Linked DNA regions of Homo sapiens: regions 1, 2, 3, 4 and 5 are each reported to be linked to region 6. Evidence: microRNA targets listed by miRTarBase, many of them from high-throughput screens and not tested one by one. Region 6 holds a microRNA gene; each other region holds the end of a gene's coding sequence. Distances are between the middles of the regions.

Region 1 (5,000 bases), not on the chromosome of region 6:
TGGTGCAGCCCTGGAGACTGACCACAGATCACTTGGGTGCTTCAGTAGTTATTCATGTCAGCCCTGTTTACCCTGTGACACTCTTGAGGGCGCTGAGGCCAAGGGAGATGGGCCTAGATTGAGTCTGTGATGAGCTGAGACCTTCCCTCCCAGATACCCCTCCTCGACACCCTGCTTCTCTGGCCTGAGGGGATGAGGCTTACCTGGGCTGGGCAGGGCAGACTGTGGCTTAACTGCCTACCCCCACCCCCTCTCTCTTGGTCAGCACCCGCTTGGCTGTGCTGAGCAGCAGCCTGACCCATTGGAAGAAGCTGCCACCGCTGCCGTCTCTTACCAGCCAGCCCCACCAAGTGCTGGCCAGTGAGCCCATCCCGTTCTCTGATTTGCAGCAGGTGAGACACCCCTCACCTGCCCCTGCCCACCCTTCTCACACTGCCCAGGGTATGGCAGAGGGTTCACCCACTCTGCCTCAGAGGAGGTAGGGAAGGTGGAGTTAGGGAGCCTGGTAGCCTTGTAGGCCCCAGCTCCCTCCCACCTCGTTCTCTTAACTTTTTATGTCTTTCCTATCTCCTTCCTGCAACCTTTATTGTTTCACTCCCCTTTGTTCTTTTCCTTCTGTCTCTCCCATCCCTGTCTTTCTCTTTGCCTTCCTGTTCCCCTTCATTCCCTCCTTCTCCATCACCATCTAATCTCCCCTCCCCATTTTTCCTGATTGCCCTCCTCACCTGTCTCTGTTCCTCTCCTCCCCGGCCCCTCTCTGTCTCAGGTCTCCAGGATAGCTGCTTATGCCTACAGTGCACTTTCTCAGATCCGTGTGGACGCAAAAGAGGAGCTGGTTGTACAGTTTGGGATCCCATGAAGAGAGGGGTCCTTGGACAGCTCTTCTCCTCTCTTCATCCCATCTCTACCCCACCCCCTTGGCCCCCAGCCTCACTGCGGCTTATACAGTACCCTAACCTGCTACTAATCACAGAGAAAAATGTGAAGAAGGAGGAGAAGAGGAAGGCTAGAAGCCTGAGCAAGTGAGGGTAGAACCTTTTGGGACTGGCCTTTGAAGCTCTGGCCAGGGATGGGGTGGGGGCCAAAAGGACAGAGCCTGGTATGTCTTCATAGTCATTGAGAATGTGGAGATACCAGTTTGGGTGGGGGGTGATCACCAGGGGACCTAGGGAGATCCCCTTCCCACCCTCTCTGTTGGCCTCAGAGTCACTCCTGCCCCCTCTCCCTGACTTGGTGCTCACATGCACCTCACTAGGGTTTGTGACCAGGGTCTGGATGAGCTTGAATTTGAATGAATTGAGTTTGTATTTCTAGAACCCTGGGTTTTTACATGTTTGGTCTTTTTTTGTTTTGGTTTGTCACCCTCGATAAAGGAAGTATATTCATCCATGTGCTGGTTCTGGCCCCTCTGTTCTACCCATTCTACTTTTGATTACTTAGGTCTATGAGAGTAAGATGGGGGGAAGGGGACATCTTCCAGGGATATTGAAGATGAACCCAAGAGACAAGGGTTTAGGGTGTCAGCTCTTAGCTGAGACCTGGCTTGGGCTAACCTCAGACTGGATGAGACTGTTCTTGTCCCTTGTCCAGTGATGATGGGAACACTGTCAAAGCTGAACAGACCTGAATCTGAGGCAGCTTTGATTCTTGGGGGCCCTGCCTCAGACTCAATGGAATTACCAACAGCCCCTGGGGGTGAAGGGAGACATGGCGGGTTGGGGGGTGGAGAGAGAAAGCAGACCAGGCTCTTCTGGGAATACCTAATATGGAGTCAGCAAGCAAATGTTTTTAAGCAGAAGATTCTTTTTATCAAATGAAATCTTAAGCAGAATCCCAGCATATAAAACAGAATGGAATTACTTTGATCTGATTGAAGTGGGGGCTGGTTTCAGAGATCATAGGCCATCTTCTTGGCCTGTCATGGAGGCCTGTGAGGCATCTCTACAGACCCTGGTACTCTGTGAAGAGTTTGGAAATTACTGATCTACTTTAACCCCCAAATCTCTAAGCTGAAAAGTACAAAGGGGCCCAGAGAGTTAGATAAATTTCCCAAGGCTGTGTGGTAAACCCACGTCTCCAGTGTCCCAGGCCAGCAGGCCTTTCCCTCAATTGCCTCCCTTTTTCAGCAAAATAAGACTAGAGCTGGCCAGGTGCAGTGGCTTATCCTGTAATCCTAGCACTTTGGGAGGCTGAGGTGGGCAGATCACCTGAGGTCAGGAGTTTGAGACCAGCCTGGCCAACATGGCGAAACCCCATCTCTACTAAAAATACAAAAAAAGGCTGGGCGTGGTGGCTCACGCTTCTAATCCCAGCACTTTGGGAGGCCAAAGCAGACGGATCACCTGAGGTCAGGAGTTCAAGACCAGCCTGGCCAACATGGCGAAACCTTGTCTCTACTAAAATATAAAAAATTAGCTGGGGGAAGCCGAGGTGGGTGGATCACAAGGTCAGGAGATGGAGACCATCCTGGCTAACATGGTGAAACCCCGTCTCTACTAAAAATACAAAAAATTAGCCAGGCGTGGTAGTAGGTGCCTATAGTCCCAGCTACTTGGGAGGCTGAGGCAGGAGAATGGCGTGAACCTGGAAGGCGGAGTTTGCAGTGAGCCGAGATCGTGCCACTGCACTCCAGCCTGGGTGACAGAGCGAGACTCCGTCTCAAAAAAAAAAATTAGCTGGATGTGGTAGCAGGCGCCTGTAATCCCAGCTACTCAGGAGGCTGAGGCAGGAGAATCGCTTGAACCCAGCAGGCGGAGGTTGCAGTGAGCTGAGATCGCACCACTGCACTCCAGCTGGGGTGACGAGTGAAACCGTCTCAAAACAACAACAACAACAACAAAATTAGCCAGTCATGGTGGCAGGCGCCTTTAATCACAGCTACTGGGGAGGCTGAGGCAGGAGAATCTCTTGAACCTGGGAGGCTGAGGTTGCAGTGAGCCAAGATCGTGCCACTGCACTCCAGCCTGTGTGACAGAGTGAGACTCCGTCTCAAAAAAAAAAAAAAGAAAAGAAAAGGCTAGAGCTACTTGCAGTTGCCTGAGTTAGAGAACATCTCTACAAGGTGTAAGTGACTTCTCATCTGCTCAACAGCTCAAATTATTTATTGTCAAACCATGCTGTCTATGCTTAGGCCTTTAGGACTACTAGGGTCGTGGGAGCCTCAAAGTGTATTCTGCTTGGTCCAGGCCTTCTTGGGCTTGATGTTCATGCGTTTCCAGACTTCAGCTGTGGTGCGGTCTGCTTTGGTGACCCCACTGAAGTCGAACGTGGTGATACGGGACAGGGTGCACAGCACATATTGCCTGTGGGGAAGACTTAGGCTGGGGGCCAGCACCCCCACCAGAATCCCCTTCCCCCTCCACTAGTTGCTGTTGTCTTCCCTGACTGCAAGGAATGGAGGGACTTGAGCATAGTTTGGGAAAGATTAGGTTTATCCTGACTGAGAGCAAGGAATGCTTAGAGGTCTGTTACTCCCTTCCCAGGTCCAAGCATGGCAGAAGAATGGTCGTAGATTTCTTGTTTCTCCTCCTCCTTTCCTTTAGGGGAGCCCAGCTAGACGCTACCTCCAGGGGCAGGGCACTTACCTATACCCTTTCTCTTCCTCCATGGGGTTCCCATGGAGTGTCAGGCTACGGAGCCGAGGAAGGACAGCCAGCTTATTCACCTCCCCCAGGCGCTGGATGCTGTTGCCGTGAAGATAGAGGACACTCAGGTTGAAGAAAGTTGTTAGGACCTGTTGGGGAGGGAAACCAAAAGCCAGGCTAGACAGGACAGGACCCTGAATCTCTGCTCAGGGCTGACTCGTGGGCAGAGAAGGAAGAATGTGGGGAACAACCTGCCCTCCACTCCAACCCTCCACAGCCATACTGTATGACTGTAACCTACTTTTATTTATGTTTTAAGACATACAGGGCATCACACTGAAAAGGAGCTGTGATCTGAGGGTCAGGAGTGTGGGCCTGGGTACCAGCACTGCCACTGACTTGCCTCTCTCAGCCTTAGTTGCCCCTTCACTGAAGACCTTTCCAGCTTTGGTGATCTACGATTCTATCACAGCAAGCAACAGGAAGACAGAGCATCATGCTAGGCACATAAGAAGCTTTTAAAATACTGGTTAAATTGAGATCACCACACCAGGGGAATAGTGTCCAAGTCATGCTCCAGCTCCTTTCCCCTCTTAGGGATCTTGGACTAGAAAAGGCCAAACTTTATTTCTTAAAACTTGAATCTGAGTTCACAGAAAGTAAGTGCTGTACTTTATTGACTACCTCTTCCACAGGAGAACCCAGCACAGGTCACAGTGGGTGCGCAGTGACAGTTAGAATTTTACTTCAGCCTCTGATGTACCAGTTGTTTGTTGGTTTTCATGTATTTTCTTTTCTTTTTTTTTTTTTTTGAGACGGAGTCTCACTCTGTTGCCAGGCTGGAGTACAGTGGCGCAATCTCGGCTCACTGCAACCTCTGCCTCCTGGGTTCAAGTGATTCTCCTGCCTCAGCCTCCCGAGTAGCTGGGACTACAGGCGCCCGCCACCACGCCCAGCTAATTTTTTGTATTTTTAGTAGAGGCGGGGTTTCACCATGTTGGCCAGGATGGTCTTGATCTCTCTTGACCTTGTGATCCACCCACCTCGGCCTCCCAAAGTGCTGGGATTACAGGCGTGAGCCGCTGTGCCCGGTGGTTTTCATGTATTTTCATTCAATCCTCACAAAACCTTTATGATACTGGCATATTATCCCCATTTTTCCGACAGGGAGGCTGCAGTTTTGAGAGGTTAGGTAGCTTGCTCAAAGTCACAGTCAGTAAGAGGCAAACCCAGGATTTGAACCTACATCTATCTGTCTGGCCCCCTAGCCTTGTGCTTTGGACTGTACCATGCTGCCTCATTACTTCCTTGATAACATGTAGGAGTGGAGAGGTTGGGGGCTGAACAAAGTGGCTTCAGGCTCCCCTGACTGGATTCCTACTGTTAGGAACTCACAGGGTCAATGGAAGTCAGGTC
Region 2 (5,118 bases), not on the chromosome of region 6:
TGATACAATCTCCTTGGAAGGTGGCATTGTCTGTAGTAGCTAGAATGAAAACAAAACCTCAATCTCTATCAGCTGGTTATATACATTAAGGAATATCCATACAATGGAATGTAAGGCAAAAAGAATGAAGTGATCTAAACTTACTGTTGAGGAGCAATAGCCAAGAAAGACATGAAAAAACAAAGGACCTAGAAAAGCATTAACAAAACACATGTGTGGCTAAATAGAGAGGAGTGGCATACAAAGGTAAATGTGGCTTTCTTTTTTCAAATGCCTGAGGGTAACCACTTTGTGTGTTCCTTTCTAACAGCTTTAAGATATAATTTATATACCATAAAGTTCACTCATTTAAAGTGTATGAGCAGCAGGCATGGTGGCTCACGCCTGTAATCCCAGCAATTTGGGAGGCCAAGGTGGGCAGATCACAAGGTCAGGAGTTCAAGACCAGCCTCAACAATATGGTGAAACCCCATCTCTACTAAAAAGAAATACAAAAATTAGTAGGGCATGGTGGCATGTGCCTGTAATCCCAGCTATTCAGGAGGCTGAGGCAGTAGAATCGCTTGAATCTGGAAGGCAGAGGTTGCAATGAGCCAATATCGTGCCATTGCACTCCAGCCTAGGCAACAGAGGGAGACTCTGTCTCAAAACAAAAAAGAAGAAAGAAAACAGGTGTATGACCAGCTGGCCTGGTGGCTCACTCCTGTAATTTCAGCAAGACTGTAATCTAGTTTGTCTTGATAGATTTGCCTATTCTGAAAAAATTAAAAATGGAATCATACAATATGTGACTTGCTTTTTCTTACCATGATCTCAAGGTTCATCCATGTTGTAACGTGTCAGTATGTTTGAAATGCTTGTTCCCCAGTGCCATAAAGAAATAGCACTTGAACATAAATAATTTTCTCAGCAAGGCCATTTTTACACTTTCTGCAGAAAGGGTACACTCGCCAGCAGTTTTGCCACGAGTACACCCAACAAAGGAGACAGGGTCATTTATAACCTGACGTATCCACCCTACCTCTGGGTCCAGTTTCCATTGGCTGAAACGGGACTTCACATTCTGTATTTGTCTTGATTGGCTAACAACTTAGAATTTTTTCAGAGGCAAAAGCAGAGGAGAACAAAGGAAGGAGGAAGTAACTTGTGGAATGCTGAGAAAGGTAAAAACACTTTCAAATAAGGAAGAGGAACAGGCTATGACTTAATGCTTGCTTGCACCAGTATAACCGTGCCAGGGCAAATATTTAGGCTAAATTGTGGGAGTTAAGAACATAAAGTACATTGATTTATTATGGCTAGCAGGTATTTAAGAATGTTAGGTCTTTGAATAAATTTTGCTTCTAAGAGAAGTTACTATTTATTCCTAATTAGATGGGGAGGAAAGTCTTTGAAGAGGAACCTCTACTTTACTTTTCACAAGTACTTAATTCTTTTCTATGGCTGAATATTCCATTGCATGAATAGACCGCATTTCATGTATCCACTTATCAGTTGATGGATATTTAGGTTGTTCCTATTTTTTGGCTGTTATAAACATTGGTGTGCAGGCTTTTGTGTGGACATGTTTTCATTTCTCTTGGGTAGATACCTAGGGGTAGAATTGCTAGGTCATATGGAAATTCTTACCTTTTGAGGAAGTGCCAAACTGTTTTCCAAAGTGCTCACCATTTTCAATTCCCACCAACAGTGTGTGTGGGCTCCAATTTCTCCACATCATGGCCAACACTTGTTTTTGTCTTTTTGATTATAGCTATCCTAGTGAATGTGAAGTGGCATCTCATAGAGGTCTTGATTTGCATTTCCCTGATGACTAAGTTGAGCATCACCTCTGTTTTCCATCACCTCTGGAAGGATACTCCAACCTAGTGACAGTGGTTGCCTTTGGGAACAAGAAACTGGAGACTAAGATCCCATTGAGAAAAAGCCTGCCTTCTCACCATGGAACCTTTGTACTGTTTAGATTTTTAAATCCTCTATTAACCTAAAAAAAAATAATTCAGGGCTTCCCTACGGGGGATCCATGAAAAGACATCATGGTGCCCATGAAGGTCTGGAATTCATGGACTCAGAACGCATATGTATGTATGTCTGTATGTAGCAAAGGTCTAGAGCTTTCATCCAAGTCCCAAGGGGATTTACTGACTTCTCCAAAAATATATGAAATCCTAGTCTAGAAATGTAAGTATGTCTGGATAACCACAAACCTATTGGTGTCAGCCCTCTATTGCGCAAACAGCCCTGGAAACACTCTGCTTATAATTGTAAAGTGTTCGCAACAGGCCAGGTCCCATTTGGGGCACAAAATGCACATTCACCTTGAATCCTCACAGACACCAGAGCTGAAGACAGGGCTGTCTGTATAGATCACTGTCCACCTGGACTGGGACCCAGCTCAGCTACATCACACATCAAGCCAAAGCTGTCCTTACTGGGGAGCTGCCAAATGTTTCACCAGGCAGGACCCATCCAACAACAACCCTACAAGATGCGTACGTTTTCTTTTTCCCATTGTACAGATGAGGAAACAGAGCCTCAGAGTAACTCCCTAACTGGGCCCAAGATCATGCAGCTATTAACAGTCAACAGTAAGAGCCAGGATCCTAGCTCTTTGCTACCCCATCTCAAGGATACAGAGTGCCTTCTCTAAACAAATTCTTCCAGACACAAAACTAATTACAAGTTGTCTGTCGACTTTACAAATATATTTTTATTATATAAAAAGAAATTACTATAGATTACTTTAAATAGGATATTTCTCCCAGTGAATTTAAAATAGCATCTGTTTCACAGAAAGATTTGCAACATGACTTTTCAGATATATACGCACTGAATAATCATTAGGTACATGGCAGAAATACACATTTAATACCTTTTTATTTTACAAAACAGGACAAGTGCATTTTCCAAGTGCTTCTATAGCCACTGTCTCATCTGTTCCTCCCAACAGCCCAGGGATGAAGAACAAGCAGGTGTTATTTTACTTACAAAGAAACTGAGGTCCCAAAAATTAAATGATTGACTTAATTAGCAGCAGAATCAGACATGAAATGCATTCTCCTGATTCTTCATAATCCAGTCATAAATAACAACACATATTCTCGGCCGGGTGCGGTGGCTCAAGCCTGTAATCCCAACACTTTGATAGGCCAAGGCGGGCAGATCACGAGGTCAGTAGTTCGAGACCAGCCTGGCCAATATGGTGAAACCCTGTCTCTACTAAAAACACAAAAATTAGCCAGGCATAGTGGCAGGTGCCTACAGTCCCATCTACTCAGGAGGCTGAGGCAGGAGAATCACTTGAACCTGAGAGGCAGAGCTTGCAGTGAGCTGAGATCGTGCCACTGCACTCCAGCCTGGGTGACAAAGTGAGACTCTGTCTCAAAAAACAAACAAACAGACAAACACATATTCTCAGAATAAAAGCTCCATTAAAAAACACTAACATTAGTGGGATGGGAAGATAAAGGTACCAGGCAGTGACTGAATAATTATGTGAATTGCAAGATTTCCAATACAGGCAGTGGAAAGCCTGCAGAGCTCTTCGCTAGGTGTCTGGCATTTGTAGAACCTGAGGCCCAGAGAGGTGAGTCAAGAACTGCACTGAGACACAAGTTGAAAGTCTTCCAGGCCAGGCACAGTGGCTCCCAACTGTAATTCCAGCACTTTGGGAGTCTGAGGTGGGAGGATTGCGCCAACAAAGCGAGACCCCATCTCTACAAAAAAATTAAAAACTAAAAAAAATCTTTCAGAGCATGCAAGCTTGCAGGCTGTCAGCAAATACAACCCAGAGATCTTAGCTCTGGAAAATGCTATGGCATTGCAGAACTGCCAGTGGCGGGGGAACAAGAGCTGCTGAGGTAATGGAATCTGCTGGGGGTGATTATCATCACATACTCCCCGGAACCACAAAATCAGCCACATCCTGGGCCCGTGTGCAGGGTTTCTGCTTCAGTCTCCTCTGATCCCCTGCTCTGACTAACAAAGCCCAGAAAGGAAGAGACTTCATGGATTTTTGTGTCTCTAAAAGCTGAGGGCCTTTCTCTCCCAACTCATTCCAGTGAAATGAAGTTTCCCTCCCACCCAGGACAGCAGATGTTTTGTTGTGTGTTTCCTGGCAGATCTTGGATTCTGCCTCAGACCTTTTTCTTGATCTGATGCTCATCTTTCCAACTGAGGACAAGGGTCCTCAGCTGTGTTCCGGTCATCAGGGGCCAAAGAGCTCAATGCTGTCCACTTTTTCCTCTTTGTAGAGCAGAATATTCTCCATCAGTTTCCTTTTGGCCTCATTGATCTCAATTTGCCACGAAGTTTCTGTAACTGATGTTCAACAGAAAGCAAACAAGAGCGACTTGAATGAAAGTTACTATTATTATAATTCTTAAAGTCACTTAAATCAGGTTTCTGAATCAGGCCCTGAGTGTAATGAGCATTTCTTTTTTTTTTTTTCTTTTTTTTTTATCGAGACAGGGTCTCACTTTGTTGCCCAGGCTGGAGTGCAGTGGCACAATTTCAGCTCAAGGCAACCTTGACCTCACAGGTTCAGGTGATCCTCCCACCTCAGTCTCCGGAGTAGCAGGGACTACAGGCGTGCACAACCACACCTGGCTTTTTTTTTTTTTTTTTTTTTTTTTGAGATGGAGTCTCACTCTGTTGCTCAGGCTGGACGACACACACAGTTAATTTTTTTGTGTTTTAGTAGAGAAGGGGTTTCACCGTGTTGCCCAGACTAGGCTTGAACTCCTGAGCTCAGGCAACCCACCCGCCTCGGCCTCCCGAAGTCCTAGGATTACAGACAGGCGTGAGCCACCACGCCCGGCCTGTGAGCCACAGCACCCAGCCCATTTATTTATTTATTTATTTATTTATCATTTGTTGAGATGGAGTCTCACTCTGTTGCCCAGGCTGGAGTGCAGTGGCTCAATCTCGGCTCACTGCAACCTCTGCCTCCTGGGTTCAAGCAATTCTCCTGACTTAGCCTCCTGAGTAGCTGGGATTATAGGCGCCCACCACCACGCCCAACTAATTTTTTGTATTTTTAGTAGAGACGGGGTTTCACCATCTTAGCCAGGATGGTCTCGATCTCCTGACCTCGTGATCCGCCCGCCTCAGCCTCCC
Region 3 (5,118 bases), not on the chromosome of region 6:
GCCTGCAATCCCAGCACTTTGGGAGGCCGAGGTGGGTGGATCACTCAAGGTCAGGAGTTGGAGACCAGCCTGAACAACATGGCAAAACCTCGTCTCTAATATTAAAAATACAAGGCCAGTCACAGTGGCTCACGTCTGTAATCCCAGCACTTTGGGAGGCCAAGGCAGGCGGATCACGAGGTCAGGGTATCGAGACCATCCTGACTGACATGGTGAAACCCCATCTGTACTAAAAATACAAAAAAAAAATTAGCTGGGCGTGGTGGCACGCACGTGTAGTCTCAGCTATTCAGGAGGCTGAGGCAGGAGAATCACTTGAACTCGGGAGGCGGAGGTTGCAGTGAGCCAAGATCATGCCACTGCACTCCAGCCTGGGTGAGAGCGAGACTCCATCTCAAATAAATAAATAAATAAATAATAAATAAAAATACAAAAAATTACTTGGGCATGGTGGCAGGCACCTGTAATCCCAGCTACTCGGGAGGCTGAGGCAGGAGAACTGCTTGAACCCGGGAGGTGGAGGTTGCACTGAGCCAAGACCACACAATTGCACTCCAGGTTGGGCGACAAAGCAAGACTCTGTCTAAAAAAAAAAAAAGAAAAAAGCAATTTACTGAGCACTCGCTCTGCTAGGTACTTGGGTTTGAACCCAGGGATTCAACAGGGAATGTGCCTATTGAGCTTAGTAAATTTGGGAAATCAAACTGAATTAAATGTCATCTAGTTTCTCAGTGCCTCTTTGAGATAGACATTCTAGGGATGTACAAAAAAATGACATCTGAACTTAGGATGTAACAAATAACTATTTAATGTGAACATGCTACATACTTGAATTTATCCAGTACATTTACCTACATATCAAATTATCAAACGTCCAAAGGATTACAATCTATTTTTCTTCCCTAATGCCTTTCTTCCACATGAGCACTAAATGTCATGGTAAAGTGCTAATGATTCTCAAAATGCAAAACTTGGAAAAAAATTGTATAACTTTTTTTTTAGGAAAAGCACATAAGATAAACTTGAACAAAGTAATGAAATTATCTCCAGATTTTCTTTTTCAAGGCTGAGTGTGTGATTCACACCTGTAATCCCAGCACTTTGGGAGGCTGAGGTGGGAGGATTGCCTGAGGCCAGGAGTTCAAGACCAGCCTGGGCAACACAGGGCGAACCCCCGCCCCACCGACCTCTATGAATAATAAAAAATTAGCTGAGCATGGTGGTACATGCTTATAGTCCCAGCTACTCAGCAGCCAAGGTGAGAGGCTAACTTGAGCCCAGGAGGTAGAGGCTGCAGTAAGCCATGATTGTGCCACTGCACTCCAGCCTGGGGGACACGACAACACCCTGTCTCAAAAATAATAAACAAAATGTTAAAATTAAATTTAAAAACAGGACTGGGCAGGGTGACTTATGCCTGTAATCCCACCACCTTGGGAGGCTGAGGCAGGAGGATCACTTAAGCTCAGGAATTTAAGACCAGCCTAGGCAACATAGTGAGACTACATCTCTACTAAAAAATTTTTTTAAAAATTAGCTGGGTGTGATGCTGGACGACCGTTGTAGCCCCAGTTACTTAGGAGGCTGAGGTATTCGGGAGAATCACTTGAGCTCTGAGGTTGAGGCTGCAGTGAGCCATGACTGTGCCATTGCACTCTAGCCTAGGTGACAGAGGGAGACCCTGTCTCAATAAAAACGTAAGAAAAAAGAAAAGAAATCAGGACTTGGAATCCTAATTTGAAAATGAAACAGAACACAGAGTAAGCTACCTAAAACAGTAATAGGCTTACAGAAGGCTTTTTAGGAATTCTTGTGTGTTCTACTCATACTTGTATAAAATTTTAAGCATCTCCAAATGTTATACAGCTCTAAATAAAGTGGAGAAAAGGGGTAGCCAGGTAATTCAAATAATAGAATTTCTTTCTTCCCAAATTACTTACTGAAGCCATGAAGCAAAACTTACCTACACAAAAATCCAGAGATCTGTGATTAGTAAACATTTAAACCGTTGACAAATTCTTTCCTTGATATTCAACGGCATCCTTCCAAGAATGTGGTTAACCAATGAACTCAATCAAGTTCAGTTGTGTCTATGACTGTGATGTCTAAATAACTGAAAAGTAAAATATCCAAAATAGCTGCTTTTCTTATGCATTACACATACCCCAACATTATGCACACAGGTGCACCAACTTAGTCCATTTGTGCTACTGCAACAAAATACCTATAATTTATAAAGAACAGAAATTTGTATTTCTCACAGTCTGTTGGCTGGGAAGCCCAAGATCAAGGTGCTCGCAGGTTCCACATCAGGCGGAGGCCCCTTCCTCACAGATGACACCATCTAGGTGTCCTCCTGTGGCAGAACAACAGAACAGCAAAATGGGCCTAAGCTAGTTGCTTCCAGACCTTTTTATAAAAGGCAACTAATTCATTCATGAAGACAGAGCGCTCATGCCTTAAATCACTTCCCCAAAAGCCCAACCTCTTAATACCACCATAATGGGGACGAACACATGAATTTGGGGTGGTGGGACACATATATTCAAACTATAGCATGCACTTTTCAACATCTTAAAACAGATTCCCGTGGTCTCAAGAGGCCAGACTAGACAAAAATTAGGGCATCTCTTTGGTTACTCTCTAAAACGTTAAACTCTATACTGAGAGTGAGTGGAATACAAAAGTATGACATTTAATTAGACATTCTGCTGGCTGACACAAAACTTGCACTTCCTTTTTCATTAGCCAATAGGTACAGCTATAACTGTAGACAGAAATTATAATTAGAAATAATGAGAGCAATTTCTTGGATTACTCCACTTTTAAATTATATTTTATTCAGACTTATCCTTTGAAATTACTCATGATTAGCCTATCCTCTTCATGTGATAATTTAGGAAACCTCTCTATTGCTGTGGCATCTTTATGGAAAAAAAAAATTGTGTACATGCATACATGCAAGAAAGTTTCCTACAAACATCACAATTTAAAAACCACTCTATCCAAAAAGGCATTGTAAAAGTATAATTTTGCATTTTATTCATTCATTCCATCAGCTGGGAATTGCTCTATTGTACAAATACAGTTTTGTACAAAAAAATCACAAAATGTTACAAAATAAAAAAAGTACAAACTGCATTACTTAATAAATATGACTAAAAGTAGTTAAAGTGGCAATGAGATTGATTTTAAGTTGGAAACATTGTTTGACCCAGCAAACCATACAAGCTCTGTTTACAGACATTTCTACATCAATACAGGGCAATCCTATTTTGCCTTTTGAAAGAATGTAAAGAAATATTAAGACAGTGTTCTCCTGCTATAACTGCCAAGGTTGGCTCCAGACATTTATGCCATTAGTTTATAAATCTCTTAGCTGGATTCAAGAAGTTATATAAAGCAGGAGGCTTATCTTGTCACAGAGTTTTATACCATGTTAACATTCTCTTACAACAACGTGACAAATGTAAATAAAAACAACTGAGAGCACCAGACAATCTACTCTACACATCAACCAGGGTACAGAATAATCATTCTGCCATCAGCAAATATCAGACTTTCATTCAAGTAAGACCTGCTACTATCCCTTAAAAGAGGAAAAACAAAACAAAAACCAAAAAAAAAACACAAAAAAACACCTTCCCACAACCTTCCATTAAGTAATTTTCTTTAAAAGATTCGCCATTTCTAGAAAAATAATGACTTCCAAAACAACAGCTCTGTTTCATCAAAATGGAATGGGCCAAACATCTGGTAACAAGAATGCATCAATATCCATTTGAAATAATTATCTAAGAATTGTGAAATTCAAATTTCAACAACATAAAATAACTACCAAATCACAAACTCTGTTCAAAATAATACATTTCATATAAAGCACTTCTCTGGATTTACGCCTGAAAGCTGTTTGTCAAAATGGAACACGTCATAGATGAAGGTACACCAGTTTTTAAAAATGTTGTGCAAAAATACATTTTTATAGAAAATAGACTACCAGGAATGAACAAATTTACACTGTGAGAAATCAGCTTGCAAATTAAGTAATGCTCACTTTATACAGCAAATTATAAATAGCAGTAAAATCACCCAAAGCTATCATGAAACATCATTTAGGTGCCCAGCAACCTCCAGCTCTGAGAAAACATTCAAAAAGATGATTAAGGCATTACACCTACAGTAAAATCTACTAGCAAGTTTGAAAGTGCTATTACCCTGATTAAAGTTCATGTGATTCTCCAAACACAAGTTATATATGCAATTATTCCCAGGGTGTAAGGTTTTGAGACATTTCAAGAGCATGCATTTTGTTCAATATACATTTTAGACAAGGATATGGCCATAGATTTGGCAAGTTCTTCGTCGCGTTTCCTTTGCACTTGAGTTTGTTTGCACCAGTTGTCGTACTCTGGGTTAGGATAGGAGTGATCAAATACAGCATCATAGTGTCCGTTACTGAGCCAACTGAGCCAAATACTAGGCCTCAGGGAATCCTCTGGGCCCAAATAATGAATCATGGTAGACACCGTGGGACTCTCCAGCCTCCCTCCAGTAGTTAAATGGATATTCACATTCAGCATCTGCCCCATGGCCAGCAACTCCGGGTACCCGGCCCATGCCCCGTCTTGGGCAGCAGCGATGATAAACTCCCCCACGTCGCCCTCAATCAGGGGGCTGAAGTGGTCGAGATGGTCGGCGATGTAGTGCACCGTCTGCTCCCTCAACTCCCGGTGCAGGCTCTGGTCCCCATACACCGTCTTGCTGACAGCTCGGTAGAGGCAGTTGCCGTCTGGAATGATGTGGAATCGGTACTTATTCCTCTGCCGCAGATACTTGTCCTGCTTCTCCACCTCGGCCAGGTATAGGGCCAGCTTCTCGTCTCTGGGATCCGACCTGGAGACGATCACCGGCTCCGCCGCACTACTCGGGGCGGCCTCGATGCTCCCGGCGGGGGGTGCCTCGGCCTCTGGGTCGGGCCTCCGCGCCGCGTCCCCACCGGGCGCGTCGCAGCGATCGCCGCCCCTCTCCCAGCCCCTGGGGCCCCTCTCCGCCAAGTGCTCTTCGCCCCACGGACCGGGGCCGGGATCGGGGCTCCCCGGGGTCGCCGCGGGGCCTCGG
Region 4 (5,118 bases), 100 Mb from region 6:
TTTAAAAATAATACTCAAGGCCAGGTGCAGTGGCTCACGCCTGTAATCCCAGCACTTTGGGAGGCCAAGGCAGGCAGATTACAAGGTCAGGAGTTTGAGACCAGCCTGGCCAATATGGTGAAACCCCATCTCTGCTAAAAATACAAAAATTAGCCAGGCGTGCTGGTGGGCACCTGTAGTCCCAGCTACTCAGGAGGCTGAGACAGGAGAATCGCTTGAACCCAAGAGGAGGAGGTTGCAGTGAGCCGAGATCCTGCCATTGCGCTCCAGCCTGGGTGACAGAGTGAGACTCCATCTCCAAATAATAATAATAATAATAATACTCAAAAGTCCAAAAATACTCAGTAGACATTTGGAAGCATCTAACTTTAATGAAAAAAAATGACAGAAAGAAAAATACAGAGAAATATAGTAAGTTAGCAATAGAATCATAAGTAAATCTCTGAAGAAACCTTTATGTTTTCATTAAATATGGAAGGGTTATAGCTTGAAGCCTATTGGAAATATGAATGTGAAGGAAATTGTATTTGTCAATGACCAGATTTTTATATCAACCTTCCTTTTTTCTGTCCTTTCACTAGTACTATTTAGGAGCCTACGTTTTTATTATCTTCACCGGCTTCCTCATTACCTTCTTGGCCTTTACCTTCTTCAAAGTCCCTGAGACCCGTGGCAGGACTTTTGAGGATATCACACGGGCCTTTGAAGGGCAGGCACACGGTGCAGATAGATCTGGGAAGGACGGCGTCATGGGGATGAACAGCATCGAGCCTGCTAAGGAGACCACCACCAATGTCTAAGTCATGCCTCCTTCCACCTCCCTCCCGGCATGGGAAAGCCACCTCTCCCTCAACAAGGGAGAGACTTTATCAGGATGAACCCAGGACTGCTTCTGAATGCTGCTACTTGATTTCTTTCTCATCCCACGCACTCCATGAGCACCCCAAGGCTGCAGTTTGTTGGATCTTCAATGGCTTTTTAAATTTTATTTCCTGGACATCCTCTTCTGCTTAGGAGAGACCGAGTGAACCTACCTTCATTTCAGGAGGGATTGGCCGCTTGGCACATGACAACTTTGCCAGCTTTTCCTCCCTTGGGTTCTGATATTGCCGCACTAGAGGATATAGGAGAGGAAAAGTAAGGTGCAGTTGCCCCAACCTCAGACTTACCAGGAAGCAGATACATATGAGTGTGGAAGCCGGAGGGTGTTTATGTAAGAGCACCTTCCTCACTTCCATACAGCTCTACGCGGCAAATTAACTTGAGTTTTATTTATCTTATCCTCTGGTTTAATTACATAAATATTTATTTTTTAAGTGTAATTTTGCCAAATAATAAAAACAGAAGGAAATTGAGATTAGAGGGAGGTGTTTAAAGAGAGGTTATAGAGTAAAAGATTTGATGCTGGAGAGGTTAAGGTGCAATAAGAATTCAGGGAGAAATGTTGTTCATTATTGGAGGGTAAATGATGTGGTGCCTGAGGTCTGTACATTACCTCTTAACAATTTCTGTCCTTCAGATGGAAACTCTTTGATTTCTCAGAAAAGTTGTATGCCTATTTAATAAAGCTACTCATTTCCTTTGGAACTTTATCTTTAAGATAATAGTTTACATGTAGTAGTACTTGAAATCTAGGATTATTAACTAATATGGGCATTGTAGTTAATGGCGGTTGATGGGTTCTAATTTTGGATGGAGTCCAGGGAAGAGAAAGTGATTTCTAGAAAGCCTGTTCCCCTCACTGGACGAAATAACTCCTTGTAGTAGTCTCATTACTTTTGAAGTAATCCCGCCACCTATCTAGTGGGAGAGCCATCCAAATGAGAAACCTAAAATAATTGGTTCTTGGTAGAGATTCATTATTTCTCCACTTTGTTCTTTAGGAGATTTTAGGTGTTGATTTTCTGTTTTATTTTAACTCATACCTTTAAAGGAATTCCCCAAAGAATGTTTACAGCAAACTTGGAATTTGTAACCTCAGCTCTGGGAGAGGATTTTTTTCTGAGCGATTATTATCTAAAGTGTGTTGTTGCTTTAGGCTCACGGCACGCTTGCGTATGTCTGTTACCATGTCACTGTGGTCCTATGCCGAATGCCCTCAGGGGACTTGAATCTTTCCAATAAACCAGGTTTAGACAGTATGAGTCAATGTGCAGTGCAGCCCACACTTGAGAGGATGAATGTATGTGCACTGTCACTTTGCTCTGGGTGGAAGTATGTTATTGTTGACTTATTTTCTCTGTGTTTGTTCCTACAGCCCCTTTTTCATATGTTGCTCAGTCTCCCTTTCCCTTCTTGGTGCTTACACATCTCAGACCCTTTAGCCAAACCCTTGCCAGTGACAGTATTTTGGTTCTCAGTTCTCACTGTTCCCTCTGCTCCTGGAGCCTTTGAATAAAAATGCACGTAGCTATGGAGTGGGGTTTAGCTGGAAAGGTGGCCTTCCAACTTCACGTCAACTTCTGGCTCCTCAGTTTGGCAGTAAGGCAGGGAAGTTGTTTTCCTATTTCTCACTGAGAAGATTGTGAATATTTCCATATGGATTTTCCATTATTGTTTGTTTGATTCTTTGTTTTAAAATAAAAATTCTGAATGTACATGACATCACAAGCACATTATTTATTTATTTTTTGCCGTTCCTGTAACAACAAAATCAGCTTTAAATCCTGAGTTGGCTACTCAGTACCTGTTGTGACCTTGAGACTTGTATGAGACTCTGTTCTTAGAGTCTCATACATAAGAGAATAGCAATATTTGGCCGGGCCCGGTGGCTCATGTCTGTAATCCCAGCACTTTGGGAGGCAAAGGAGGGCGGATCACCTGAGATCGGGAGTTTGGGACCACCTGGCCAATATGGTGAAACCCTGTCTGTACTAAAAATACAAAAATTAGCCTGGCGTGGTGGCAGGTGCCTATAATCCCAGCTACTTGGGAGGCTGAGGCAGGAGAATCGCTTGAACCCAGGAGGCAGAGGTTGCAGTGAGCCAAGATTGCGCCATTGCACTCCAGCCTGGGGGACGAGAGTGAGACTTTGTCTCAAAAAAAAAAAGAGAATAGCAATATGTGTTTATTATGCAGATTAAGTGAAAAAGCCTTCGTGCCTTGCTTTTCATACTTGATGAATTATGTTGCTTTCTTTCCCCAGTGAGAACTAGTTTTTTTTTTTTTCTGTTTTTCTCGTGTTCCTTTCCACTTCCTTCCTCCTCCAGTCTTTGCTCTCTACAATTCATCCCACACTGCTGTCAGGGCATCCATGTGACATACAGCAGTCCCTTGCCATCCCCAGGGGACTGGTTCCCAGACCCCTTCTTAGATAACAAAATTCAGGGATACTCAAGTCCCTTATATAAAATGCATATAGTCTGGGTGCAGTGGCTTATGCCTGTAATCCCAGAACTTTGCGAGGCCAAGACGGGCAGATCACGAGGTCAAGAGATCCAGACCATCTTGGCCAACATGGTGAAACCCCATCTCTACTAAAAATACAAAACTTAGCTGGGTGTGGTGGCATGCACCTGTAGTCCCAGTTACTCAGGAGGCTGAGGCAGGAGAATCCTTTGAACCTGGGAGGCGGAGTTTGCAGTGAGCTGAGATCACGCCACTGCACTCCAGCCTGGTGACAGAGCAAGACTTGGTCTCAAAAAAAAATGCATATAATTATTATTGTGATGATTTAAATGCAAATAATCTATGCACATCATCTCATGCACTTTAAATCATCTCTAGATTACTTTTAATACCTAATACAATGTAAATAATTGTTAAACTGTATTGTTTTTTATAGTTGTATTGTCTTTTTTCCCAAATATTTTCCATCTGTAGTTCTTTGCATCTGCAGATACAGAAGTCGGACTGTATATCACTATCCTACTTAAAATCCTTCGGCCGGGCGCAGTGGCTCACACCTGTAATCCCAGCAATTTGGGAGGCTGAGGCGGGCGGATCACAAGGTCAGGAGATCGAGACCATCCTGGCTAACACGGTGAAACCCCGTCTCTACTAAAAATACAAAAAAAAAATTAGTGGGGCATGCGGCGGGCGCCTGTAGTCCCAGCTACTCAGGAGGCTGAGGCAGGAGAATGGAGTGAACCCGGGAGGCGGAGCTTGCAGTGAGCCGAGATCGTGCCACTGCACTCCAGCCTGGGCGACAGAGGGAGAGTCCATCTCAAAAAACAAAAGAAAACAAGCCGGGCATGGTGGCACATGCCTGTAGTCCCAGCTACTTGGGAGGTTGAGGTGGGAGAATCACCTGAGTCCAGGCGATTGAGTCTGCAATGAGCCAAGATCGCACCACTGCACTCCAGCCTGAGTGACAGAGTCCCTATCTCAAAAAACAAAAAAAGTATATTATACTAAAATTTGTCTTCCCAAGGATTATAATTGTTTTTTATCGGAGGAGGGGAACAGGATATCACTGTATTGCCCGGGCTATTCTCCTGGGCTCAAGCAACTGTCCGGCTTCAGCCTCCTGACTAGCTTGGACTTCAGATTCGAGCGACCAAGCCTTTCACATTACAATTGTTTTTTTAATTAATTAACTATTTATTTATTTGAGATGGAGTCTTTCTCAGTTGCCCAGGCTGCAGTGCAATGGTGTGATCTCGGCTCACTGCAACCTTAGTCTTCAGGGATCAAGTAATTCTCCCGCCTCAGCCTCCCCAGTAGCTGGGAGTACAGGCACACACTGTCATGCCTGGCTATTTTTGTAGTATTGTAGAGACGGGGTTTCACCATGTTGGCCAGGCTGGTCTTGAACACCTGAGCTCAACTGATCCGCCCACCTCGGCCTCCCAAAGTGCTGGGATTACAGGCGTGAGCCACCGCGCCCGGCCAATTGTTTTTTTATTATTGAAAGGTAGGAACACTGAGAAAAGCAGGGAAAGAGTAGGACCTTCCTGGTAGGAGCAGAAACCCATAAACTTAGACAGGGTAAAGCCTGATAAATCCTACAGTCAGGCCAGGGGCAGTGGCTCACGCCTGTAATCCCAGCATTTTGAGAGGCCAAGGTGGACGGATCACTTGTGCCCAGGAGTTCTAGAGCAGCCTGGCTCACATGGAAAAACCTCATCTCTACTAAAAACACAAAAATTAGCAGAGTGCGGTGGCATGTGCCTGTAA
Region 5 (5,117 bases), not on the chromosome of region 6:
TAAAGTTCAAAGAGAGTTCAGAAATAAGGACAGAAGAAGAGACATACACTAGGGGGAATGTTTACTTAATGTATGGCCACTCCCTTTTCCATCCGTCTTTGGACTGCTGTTAGGGCACCCATCCTGGAGCCTGAAAGTGCTCCCATAGCCATTTGCTCCTTTGGCTTTGGGGTTAAGCGTCATCTTTTTTAGGCTCCATGGGGAGTGGGAGTCCGTGATGAGGCAGGAAGTTTAGTGGAAGATGTGGGCTTTGCCCAGTTCCTTTCTGTGCTACACTTTGGCCCTACAGGACCAGTGTGTGGAAATCACTGAGGAGTCCAAGGCTCTCCTGGAGGAATACAACAAGACTGTATCCTTTCTGCTCAACTAGGACCCTAATGGGTGCTGTCCCTAAGCCCTGTCCTTTTGTTCCACCTCTAGCTCTCTCTCATCCTATCCTACCCACCTATGTTTGCCTGTTCCCCACTTTCCATGAACTTCCTCACTCAGATTCCTATTCTCACCTTGACCTACAACCAGACAATGCTTCTCTCCAAGCAATTCGTGCAGTGGGATGAGCTACTTTGCCAGCTAGAGGCCGCCACGCAAGTGAAGCCAGCAGAGGAGTGATAGCTGCTCCCCATCCCAAAGTGGGCCTGGGCAGTCAGGCTCCAGGGCCCTATGCCAACCTGCCTTTGTTACAAGGCAGAGGAAGCTTTGTATTTATTGGCTTCAAGGCCCACCTCTCTGTACTCTGGGCTCTAAAGTTGGAGGTCAGGTTACCTGAGGTTTGCAATTTGCAACACCCACCCTCCCCCCAATCAGTGTTCTTATTTCAGTGACAATAAACCATAGAGATGACTGGAGGAGTGTGCTGGCTTCTTGGTCTAGGATGGAGGTGGTAGGGGGCAGAGGTGTCAGCCTGCCTAATCGTTTGACTGGGAACTAAACTCATCCTGGTCTGGCTTTCTGGCAGGTGTAGAGCTCTCAAAATGAAGGCTCTCATTTGATTATGTGAATAGGATATTCCTTTATGTATCCATTTATCCCACATTTACCAATAAGAGACCTCCAAATGTCAGATGATGGGAGTAGATAGGGCTAATCCCTGCCCTGCACGGGCTAGCAGGATAGACAGTAAAGGAAAAGGGCAGTCCTATCAGGTGGACACAGAAGAAAAAAGGGACTGAAGGGACCTGGTAAGTGATATCCAGGGACTTTCAGAGCCAAGGGAGCAGCATGTGCAAAGGCCTTTAAATTTCTCTCTTGGGAGCCTACCTGCTGCCACGAGCCGAGAAGGGCAGCCTAAGAGGTTTGGATGCAGGAAGTTTTGGTCCTGGGGAGGGGAAGTTGGGAAGTAGGGGCGCTGGGGCAAGCATGTTGAGAAACAGATTGGCACCGTAGTCCACCAAATGTTTGCTGCCCCCTTGTGGTCTCAGGGAGTGCTCTGGCTCCAGACCCTTTTTCCAACGGCCCATTGGCCGCCCCGCCTTTGCGACCTCTCCGGCACCTCAAATTCAGCGTGTCCAAACCGATCTGAAACCTGGGAGTCACCCTAGATCGGAATTTCCTACTTCTCCGTCCAAACAGTGGCCAACTCGTCACTGAACCTACTAGTATCTCCCAACTTAATCTTTTTTCCATTCCCACCGCGATTTCTCTGGTTCATTAATGTAACAAATCATTTAACAAATATTGAGCGCCGGTCATACGCCAGGCACCATACTAGGCTCCGTGGGCACCCCCGCCCCCTCAGCCCCCAGACTCCGCGGCAGGTGTCGTCAGGGGCTGTGGCCCGATTTCCCCACCACTCCCTCCTCGGCTCCCTGCACAAGATCTGGTTCGACTGGCCCCTGGAAAACCCGGAAAACCCCCGTGGTCCGCCAGCGCCCACAGGATGAGGTCGAAGCTCAGAAGTCGGTAACTAAGGCTCTCGCCCATGCAACAGCAGCCACTACAAACTGAAGCCTTTGTTCGCACCCACGGTGAAACCCACAGCTCCCCGTTTGCTCAACAGCTAACGCCAGCCCTCCCATCTTCTAAGGGCCAGATCCCCCTCCTTCAGACGCAGGACTTCCCCGACGGCCGCTCCTTTCTACCGCAGGGAACTGTCCTGCCTCCCTCCGGGGCGTAACAGCGGAGGCTGCGCTCGTGTTCCCATCCCCGCTGGGACTGGTCCGGGGCGCTCTGGCCAGCGGGTTGTTTCCGCGGCGGAGATGCCTCGGGGCCCGTCCCTCACGCCCCGCCCCTCACGCCCCGCCCCCTCGGGGCGTGCGCGGCCCCGCGGCCTTAGTGCGCTCCGGGCCCGCGCGCCATCTTGGCTCCGGATCGTGCGTGAGGCGGCTTCGGTGAGAGCCGGAACCGGGCGGGCAGAGGGGCGCTCGTAGGGTTGGGGGACGCCTGTGGCTTGGCTGCAGCGGCCGGCAAGACCCTGGAAGAGACCGTGGCTATGGAAACGGCCAAGGCTGTCTTGGAATGTCCTGAGCAGCCCTCCGAGTCGAGCCTCTGCCCCCGAGTTTCTGAGTGACCTGGGTTGATATAGATTGACCTTGGTAATCTCTGGGAGAGGGGATCCGTTCTGTTTGGGGGCAGCACTGGATAAGGGTTCTTGGCTGTTTCCCGGGGGGCCTGGGGCGAAGGGCCTTGTCCCTGTCCTTGTAGAGCCCCAAGTGAGGAGCGCTCTCTATTGGTATTAGTCTGGGGTGAGGGTTCCAGGCCCTGTTCCAAGGAGCCCAGGATAAGGGGGGCTAAGCCCCAGTCCTGGAGAGTTTAGGATGAGGGGGCCTGGCACTTTCCCAAAGAGCTCAGTGTTTGGGGAATGTGATCCTGCCTCTTGGACTCCAGGATTGGAGGTGGGGGTGTTATGGCCCTTGTAGAGGAACGGGGTGTATGGGGTACAGCCCTTTCCCAGACTGCGGCAGGCATGGACCTTGTCACGAGATGCTAAGGACAAGGGGACATGATCCTGTTTCTGGGAAGTCTGGAACGGGGAGCAGGGCCATATCCTGGATGGAGATAGGGGATGGTGGACAGTGACTTGGGGCACATTGCTTAGCACTTACCTGATGCTTCCCTGCAGTGGGCAGCGAGAGTCACAGACAAGACAGCAAGCAGGATGGAGCACTACCGGAAAGCTGGCTCTGTAGAGCTCCCAGCGCCTTCCCCAATGCCCCAGCTACCTCCTGATACCCTTGAGATGCGGGTCCGAGATGGCAGCAAAATTCGCAACCTGCTGGGGTTGGCTCTGGGTCGGTTGGAGGGCGGCAGTGCTCGGCATGTAGTGTTCTCAGGTTCTGGCAGGGCTGCAGGAAAGGCTGTCAGCTGCGCTGAGATTGTCAAGCGGCGGGTCCCAGGCCTGCACCAGCTCACCAAGCTACGTTTCCTTCAGACTGAGGACAGCTGGGTCCCAGCCTCACCTGACACAGGGCTAGACCCCCTCACAGTGCGCCGCCATGTGCCTGCAGTGTGGGTGCTGCTCAGCCGGGACCCCCTGGACCCCAATGAGTGTGGTTACCAACCCCCAGGAGCACCCCCTGGCCTGGGTTCCATGCCCAGCTCCAGCTGTGGCCCTCGTTCCCGAAGAAGGGCTCGAGACACCCGATCGTGAAGACCTGCTGAGCCAGCCTGTTCTCCGGGCCTGAATGTCTGGGGTGCTTGTGCCTTTTCTGAGAAGCGTTGTGACTGCTCAACATCCCCATCAAGGTTTGAGTCCACAAAAGTGGACCTCCCTATCATGCTTCCCCTTCCCTCTAGCATGTGGGAAGGGACTGCTGTGAAGAATGACAGATGTGGGGCCTCTGCCAAGTTCTGCATTGCTAAATAAGGGCTTCCTCTGCCTTCTACCTACAGTGCATTTGAACTGCCTTCTGAAAGAGGTCCAGGGAGGGATTTAGGAAATAAAGTTTCTACCTATTTGATGAGCCTCTACTCAGCCTGCTATGTGGAGTGGGATTAAAGAAATGGGAGTCCCCGCCCTTACCCCGGGGGGCTGATCGGGTGAAGACAGAGGAAGAGTAGTAGGCTCAGGCCGGTGCTGGGAGAATATAGTGTCTACAAGAAGCCTCAGTCAGTACTGAATATATCTAATTCCCTGGATAGTTATTTGCCCCTGCTTTGGCCTGGTTTAGGAACACTGCCAGGTCAGACATTTCTCTCCATCTGCAGCATACAGTATAGTATAGTGGTTGTGAGCATGGACTCTGGTACCAACCTGCCTGGGTTTCAATCCTGGTCTGCCACTTATTAGCAAGTTACTGCTCTGTGCCTTAGTGGTCTTATCCATAAAACAGGAATACGATAGTGTTTATCACATAGGATTGTTATGAGATTACATAAGGAAATATACATATATGACATTTAGATACCACACTGGCACATAGTGCTATTAAGTGTTAATTGCTATTATCGTTATTAATGACTTACCTATCCCAAATGCAACAACTGTCTCACACCTCCTTCCCTCCAGCTTCCTTGCCCCAATCTCAGCTATGGAGCTGGACTCTGCTTTGAAGAGACAGAGGCCTTTCGAACTCCCTCATGTTCCATCTTCACCTCCAGACCTGTCTGTATACACATTTATCCTCAACTCCACTAGTTTGCAAACATGCTTTTTCCTGTCTTAGAATCATATCTTTGGGTTGGGCACAGTGGCTGATGCCTGTAATCCCAGCACTTTGGGAGGCTGAGGCAGGAGGATTGCTTGATCCCAGGAGTTGGAGACCAGCCTGGGCAACATAGTAGGGAGACCCTGTCTCTACAAAAACATCTAAAAATTAGCTAGGCATAGTGGTGTGCACCTTTAGTCCCAGCTACTTGGGAGGCTGAGGCAAGAGGATCGCTTGAGCCCGGGAGGTTGAGGCTGCAGTGAGCCATGATTGTGCTACTGTACTTCGGCCTGGATGACAGAGTGAGACCCTGTCTCAAAAACAGAAAACAGGCTGGGCGCAGTGGCTCACACCTGTAGTCCCAGCACTTTGGGAGGCCAAGACGAGTGGATCACTTGAGGTCAAGACCAGCCTGGTCAACTTGGTGAAGCCCCATCTCTACTAAAAATACAAGAAATTAGCTGGGCGTGGTGGTGCATGCCTGGAATCCCAGTTACTTGGGAGGCTGAGGCAGGAGAATAGCTTGAACCCAGG
Region 6 (5,118 bases):
ACTCCCAAAGTGCTGGGATTACAGGTGTGAACCACCACGGCCTTACAGGTGTGAGCCACCAGGCCCAGGCCTAATTTTTGTATTTTTAGTAGAGACGGGGTTTCACCACATTGGCCAAGATGGTCTCCATCTCCTGATCTCGTGATCCGTCTACCTTGGCCTCCCAAAGTGCTGGGATTACAGGGGTGAGCCACTGCACCCAGCCTAAAATTCACCATTTTAAAGTGTACAATCACTGGTTGACAGCATATTCACAGTGTTGTGTGACCATCACCACTGTCTAATTGCAGAACATTTCTATCACACTGAAAGAAGCCCTGTGCCCAGGAGGCAGGCACTCTCCATTCCTCCCTCCCCCAGCCCCTGGCAACCACTAACATACTTTCTATCTCTATGGATTCGCCTATTCTAGATATTTATAATACTGTAAATGGAATCACACAGCATGTGGCCTTTTGTGCCTGGGTTCTTTTTTTTTTTTTTTGGAGTCTCACTCTATCGCTCAGGCTGGAGCGCAGTGGCATGATCTCCACTCACTGCAATCTCCGCCTCCCAGGTTCAAGCGATTCTCCTGCCTCAGCCTCCCGAGTAGCTGGGACTACAGGCACCTGCCACCACAGCCAGCTAAGTTTTGTGTTTTTAGTAGAGATAAGGTTTCACCATGTTGGCCAGGCTGGTCTCAAACTCTTGACCTCAAGTGACCTACCCACCTCGGCTTCCCAAAGTGCTGGGATTACAGGCATGAGCCACCGCACCCAGACAGTCTGGGTTCTTTCACTCAATGTTATGTTCAAGATTAATCCATGCTATTGCATGCATGGCTACTGATATGGCTTGGCTTTGTCCCCACCCAAATCTCATCTTGAATTGTAGCTCCCACAATTCCCACGTGTTGTGGGAGGTAATTGAATCATGGGGCCAGGTCTTTCCCATGCTATTCTTGTGACAGTGAGTAAGTCTCACAAGATCTGATGGTTTTATAAAGGGGAGTTTCCCTGCACAAGTTCTCTTCTCTTGTCTGCCACCACGTGAGACATGCTTTTCACCTTTCACCATGATTGTGAGGCCTCCCCAGCCACGTGGAACTGTGTGAGTCCATTAAACCTCTTTCCTTTATAAATTACCCGGTCTCTGCAATGTCTTTACCAGCAGTGTGAGAACAGACTCATACAGCTACTTCATTCCTTTCTGTGGCTGAGCCACATTTCATTGCATGGACAGATCACATTCTGTATCCATTCATCTACAGACGGACATTTGGGTTGTGTTCACCTTTTGGCTGTTACAAATAATGCTGCTGTGAAGATTCATATACACGTTTTTATGTGGGAGCACGTTTTTCTTTCTCTTGGATAAATACCTAGGAGTGGAATTGCTGGGTCATATGGGGGCTTCATGTTTAACTTTTTGAGGAGCTCCCAAATTATTTTCCACAATGAGTGTGCCATTTTCCATTCCCATCAGCAACATAGGAGGGTTCCGATTTCTCCACATCCTTACCAATACTTTAAAATATATATACATATAGCCCAGCCTGGGCAACATGGCGAGATCTCATCTCTACAAAAAATAAAAATGTTTTTTAATTGTCCAGGTGTGGTGGTACACACCTGTGGTCCCAGCTACTCAGGAGGCAGAGGTGGGAGGATTGCTTGAGCCCAGGAGTTCAAGGCTGCAGTGAGCTATAATCGCACCCCACAGCACTTCAGCCTGGGTAGAATATTTTTTTCTGTCTGAAAAAATAAAACTAAAAATAAATAAATAATAAAAATATAGCCATCCTAGTGGGGGCTAAGTGTGAAGCAGAGGCTAAGCTTTTAGGATCAGTGTCACAATCATGGGTCCCTCTGCTCTGGTCTCCTGCCCTGAGGCAGCTGGGGAGGAGCCCCACCACTCCGCTGCCTGCCAAGTTCAGGTGCAGGGCCTTTGCACCACAGAGAAGCTTGATCCTTCGGAGGTGAGGTAGCAGGACCTCTCAAATCGACATCACACCCTGACCCAGGAGAAACTGAGCCCAGCTCCCCAAATTCCAGGATGGTGACCACCAGATTCCAGTAGGCCCTGGCTTTGAGGAATCTCTGTTGGGTTGTGAGGGGCTGCTGGGAGGCTCTTACCACACAGTGCCCGCCTGGAGGGCCTGGGACAGGTAATTGGCCTTGTCCAAATCCTTTGTGAAGACAGCTGCGGCCAGCCCGTACGTGGAATTGTTGGCTCTCCCAACAACCTCCTCTATGGTCTTGAACTTCAGGATCTGCATCACTGGCCCGAAGATCTGGAGTGAGAGAGCAGCGTAGGAGGGTTCGGCAACACGGAGGCACCTGCCATCGAGCTCTCTCAGAGCAGAACAGATGATTCCAGATTGGGGGATAAGCCCCCAGCCATGCTCTAACAGTTCCAGGGGAAGACAACAGCCATCAAGCTCAGCAGAACACAGAGGGAATGGAGCTAACAGGGGCCAACTTCCTCCTGTGCGCCCCGGGCTTTACATACAGTATCCCATTTCTAAACAATCCTGCCAGGTATGTTATTCACACGTGACACGTAGATTTAGTGTCAAAGAATTTAAGTCAGCTGGGCATTGTGGCTCATGCCTGTAATCCCAGCACTTTGGGAGGCCAAGGTGGGAGAACTGCTTGAGTCTAGGAGTTCGAGTCCAGCCTGGCAAACACAGAGAGACCCTGTCTTTACTCAAAAAAAAAAAAAAAATTTTTGGCCAGGCACGATGGCTCACACCTGTAATCCCAGCATTTTGGGAGGCTGAGGCAGGTGGATCACCTGAGGTCAGGAGTTGGAGACAAGCCTGGCCAACATGGTGAAACCCCATCTCTACTGAAAATAAGAAAAATTAGCTGGGCGTGGTGGTGTGCGCCTGTAATCCCAGCTACTAGTAGGGTCTGAGGCAGGAGAATCGCTTGAACCCGGGAGGCAGAGGTTGCAGTGAGCTGAGATTGCACCACTGCACTCCAGCCTGGCGACAGAGTGAGACTCCATCTCAAAACGAGAAGAGAAAAAATAAGCCGGGCGTGGTGGCTCATGCCTGTAATCCCAGCACTTTGGGAGGCCGAGGCAGGCAGATCACGAAGTCAGGAGTTCGAGACTAGTCTGATCAACATGGTGAAACCCTGTCTTTACTAAAAATACAAAAATTAGCCAGGCGTGGCTAAAACTGGAGACAGAGTCCCGCTCTGTTGCCTAGGCTGGAGTGCAGTGGCGCGATCTCGGCTCACTGAAACCTCTGCCTCCCAGGTTCAAGCGATTCTCCTGCCTCAGCCTCCAGAGTAGCTGGGATTTCAAGCAAGCGCCACCACGCAGGGCTAATTTTTTCTTATTTTTAATACAGACAGGGTTTTGCCATGTTGGCCAGGCTGGTCTCGAACTCATGACCTCAGGTGATCCACCCACTTCGGCCTCCCAAAGTGTTGGGATTACAGGCGTGAGCAACTGCACCCAGCCTGTACTAAAAAATTTTTTTAAAATTAGCCAGGCATGGTGGTGAGCACCTGTAGTCCCAGCTACTCAGAAGGCTGAGGTGGGAGGATCATTTGAGCCCAAGAGTTCAAGGCTATAAGGAGCCATGATTATGCCACTGCACTCCAGCCTGGGCAACAGAGCAAGAATCTGACTGAAAGAAAAAAGGTCATGGGAAGGAGCAGACAATGTCATTCCTAGACTCCTGGCTCTGAGGGCCAGGACACCAAGGCCTGCAGGCCATGCTGAGGAATGCAGACGATCTCCCAGACAGAGGGTACAAGCTGAAGAGGAGGGACAAGATCAGATACATACTATGAATAGCGTGTTATGGGCACTGGTTCTGGGTATAACTTGAGATCTGGCCCCAAGCCAGCAGATGGGTGACAGCATCAGGATGCCAGGCTGAACTGTTTACCTCACCTCCCGCCAAGAATGTTTCCAGAGCACTGGCCCCAAGTGCTCACCTCCTCCTTGGCGATGGTCATGCCATCCTGCACATCTCCAAACACAGTGGGCTGGATGAAGTAACCACGGTCAGCAGCAATGCCCCCACCACACAGCAGCTTCGCCCCCTCTTGCTTCCCCGTGTTGATGTAGCCGAGGATCTTCTTAAACTGAGTTTCATCCACCTGTGGGAGAAGGAACCCAGAGTTATGGAGACATCGGATTCAGACCTCTCCTAGGCTTCAGGCTTAGAATTATGCAGGCAACAAGACAACTGGGAAATGGACCAAGGTCATAAGAAAGCAAGATCAGAAGAGGAAACACACAGGGCCAATAGCAGAAAACACAAAAAAGGCCCAACTTCCTCAGCCTACCGGAGAAAAGGACATCAAATCAATCTTTACTTTTCAACTATAAGATTACCAAAAAGTTTAGGAAGAAAATACACTGATAGCAAGAGACCGTTACATATACTGTTAGAAGGATGACAGACTGGTACAGCCTTTAGAGCAAGTGGTTTATTAATATTGCTCAAAAATTATATACTCAGATCCTTTGGCCCAGCTATTTAACTTCTAGGAATTTATTCTACATATGCACAAAGAGAAATGAACAAGGATATTCACTAGGGAGTATTTTTTTTTTTTTGTATTTTTGTTTTTGAGATGGGGTCTCACTCTGTCACCCAGGCTGGAGTGCAGTGGTGCGATCTCCACTCACTGTAACCTCTGCCTCTCATGCTCAAATGATCCTCCCACCTCAGCCTCCCGAGTAGCTGGGACTATAGGCATGCACCCCTACGCTGGGCTAATTTTTGTATTTTTAGTAGAGACAGGGTTTTGCCTTGTAGCCCAGGCTGGGGGAGCATTTTGTAAAGGCAAAAGATGGAAACAATTCTAAGTATAAATCAGTAGAGGGGTTGGTTAAAATTATTACGGTGCATCCAGTATATTGTCATCACTAATAGATCTGTGAACTAACTGACACAGAAAGATGGCCCAAGATACTCTGTAAAAAGAAGGAAAGCTTGGGCCAGGGGCAGTGGCTCACGCCTGTAATCTCGGCACTTTGGGAGGACGAGGCAGGCAGATCATGAGGTCAGGAGTTCAAGACTAGCCTGGCCAACATAGTGAAACCCCGTCTCTACTAAAAATACAAAAATTAGCTGGGCATGGTGGCACATGCTGAGGCAGGAGAATCGCT

What was found. Region 6 holds the annotated microRNA hsa-miR-6761-5p (UCUGAGAGAGCUCGAUGGCAG, at 2,319-2,339, opposite strand). A microRNA usually pairs through its seed, bases 2 to 8, with sites in the 3' UTR of a target mRNA and lowers its output. Matches are read on the target gene's strand: a 7mer-m8 pairs with bases 2 to 8, a 7mer-A1 pairs with bases 2 to 7 and ends in A, and an 8mer does both.
Region 1: miRTarBase lists LAMTOR1 as a target of hsa-miR-6761-5p. The part of its 3' UTR that is shown has no 7-base or 8-base seed match.
Region 2: the mRNA of IRAK2 is a reported target of hsa-miR-6761-5p. Seed matches in the 3' UTR shown: 7mer-m8 at 3,307-3,313.
Region 3: miRTarBase lists OTUD1 as a target of hsa-miR-6761-5p. Seed matches in the 3' UTR shown: 7mer-A1 at 4,136-4,142 and 7mer-m8 at 3,484-3,490.
Region 4: miRTarBase lists SLC2A14 as a target of hsa-miR-6761-5p. Seed matches in the 3' UTR shown: 7mer-A1 at 1,537-1,543 and 7mer-A1 at 2,310-2,316.
Region 5: the mRNA of DCTN3 is a reported target of hsa-miR-6761-5p. The part of its 3' UTR that is shown has no 7-base or 8-base seed match.

What each region holds. Positions count from the first base shown.
Region 1 is chr11:72,093,681-72,098,680 of GRCh38, reverse strand. It overlaps LAMTOR1 (late endosomal/lysosomal adaptor, MAPK and MTOR activator 1), which reads left to right. Exons shown (of 5, transcript NM_017907.3): 4 at 266-392; 5 at 767-1,389. The coding sequence ends at 859. It overlaps LRTOMT (leucine rich transmembrane and O-methyltransferase domain containing), which reads right to left. Exons shown (of 9, transcript NM_001145310.4): 4 at 4,980-5,000; 5 at 3,585-3,733. The coding sequence starts at 3,618. It overlaps LRRC51 (leucine rich repeat containing 51), which reads right to left. Exons shown (of 6, transcript NM_145309.6): 4 at 4,980-5,000; 5 at 3,585-3,733; 6 at 1,786-3,302. The coding sequence ends at 3,161. Among named protein-coding and RNA genes, the nearest start is that of LAMTOR1, 7.1 kb to the left of the region's middle.
Region 2 is chr3:10,241,318-10,246,435 of GRCh38, reverse strand. It overlaps IRAK2 (interleukin 1 receptor associated kinase 2), which reads right to left. Exons shown (of 13, transcript NM_001570.4): 13 at 2,691-4,320. The coding sequence ends at 4,208. Among named protein-coding and RNA genes, the nearest start is that of TATDN2, 4.6 kb to the left of the region's middle. RefSeq lists a silencer at 3,811-3,880.
Region 3 is chr10:23,440,078-23,445,195 of GRCh38, reverse strand. It overlaps OTUD1 (OTU deubiquitinase 1), which reads right to left. Exons shown (of 1, transcript NM_001145373.3): 1 at 2,819-5,118. The coding sequence ends at 4,293. Among named protein-coding and RNA genes, the nearest start is that of OTUD1, 3.6 kb to the right of the region's middle. RefSeq lists a silencer at 4,903-5,118.
Region 4 is chr12:7,809,998-7,815,115 of GRCh38, reverse strand. SLC2A14 (solute carrier family 2 member 14) reads left to right here. Exons shown (of 11, transcript NM_001286234.2): 11 at 582-2,602. The coding sequence ends at 800. Among named protein-coding and RNA genes, the nearest start is that of NANOG, 23 kb to the right of the region's middle.
Region 5 is chr9:34,609,274-34,614,390 of GRCh38, reverse strand. DCTN3 (dynactin subunit 3) reads left to right here. Exons shown (of 7, transcript NM_007234.5): 6 at 290-349; 7 at 520-845. The coding sequence ends at 609. RPP25L (ribonuclease P/MRP subunit p25 like) reads left to right here and starts at 2,294. Exons shown (of 2, transcript NM_148178.3): 1 at 2,294-2,327; 2 at 3,059-3,896. The coding sequence starts at 3,095. The coding sequence ends at 3,586. RefSeq lists enhancers at 1,493-1,542, 1,670-1,719, 2,823-3,376 and a silencer at 2,120-2,359.
Region 6 is chr12:111,797,060-111,802,177 of GRCh38, reverse strand. MIR6761 (microRNA 6761) reads right to left here and starts at 2,344; the gene lies at 2,273-2,344. It overlaps ALDH2 (aldehyde dehydrogenase 2 family member), which reads right to left. Exons shown (of 13, transcript NM_000690.4): 10 at 3,936-4,100; 11 at 2,115-2,272.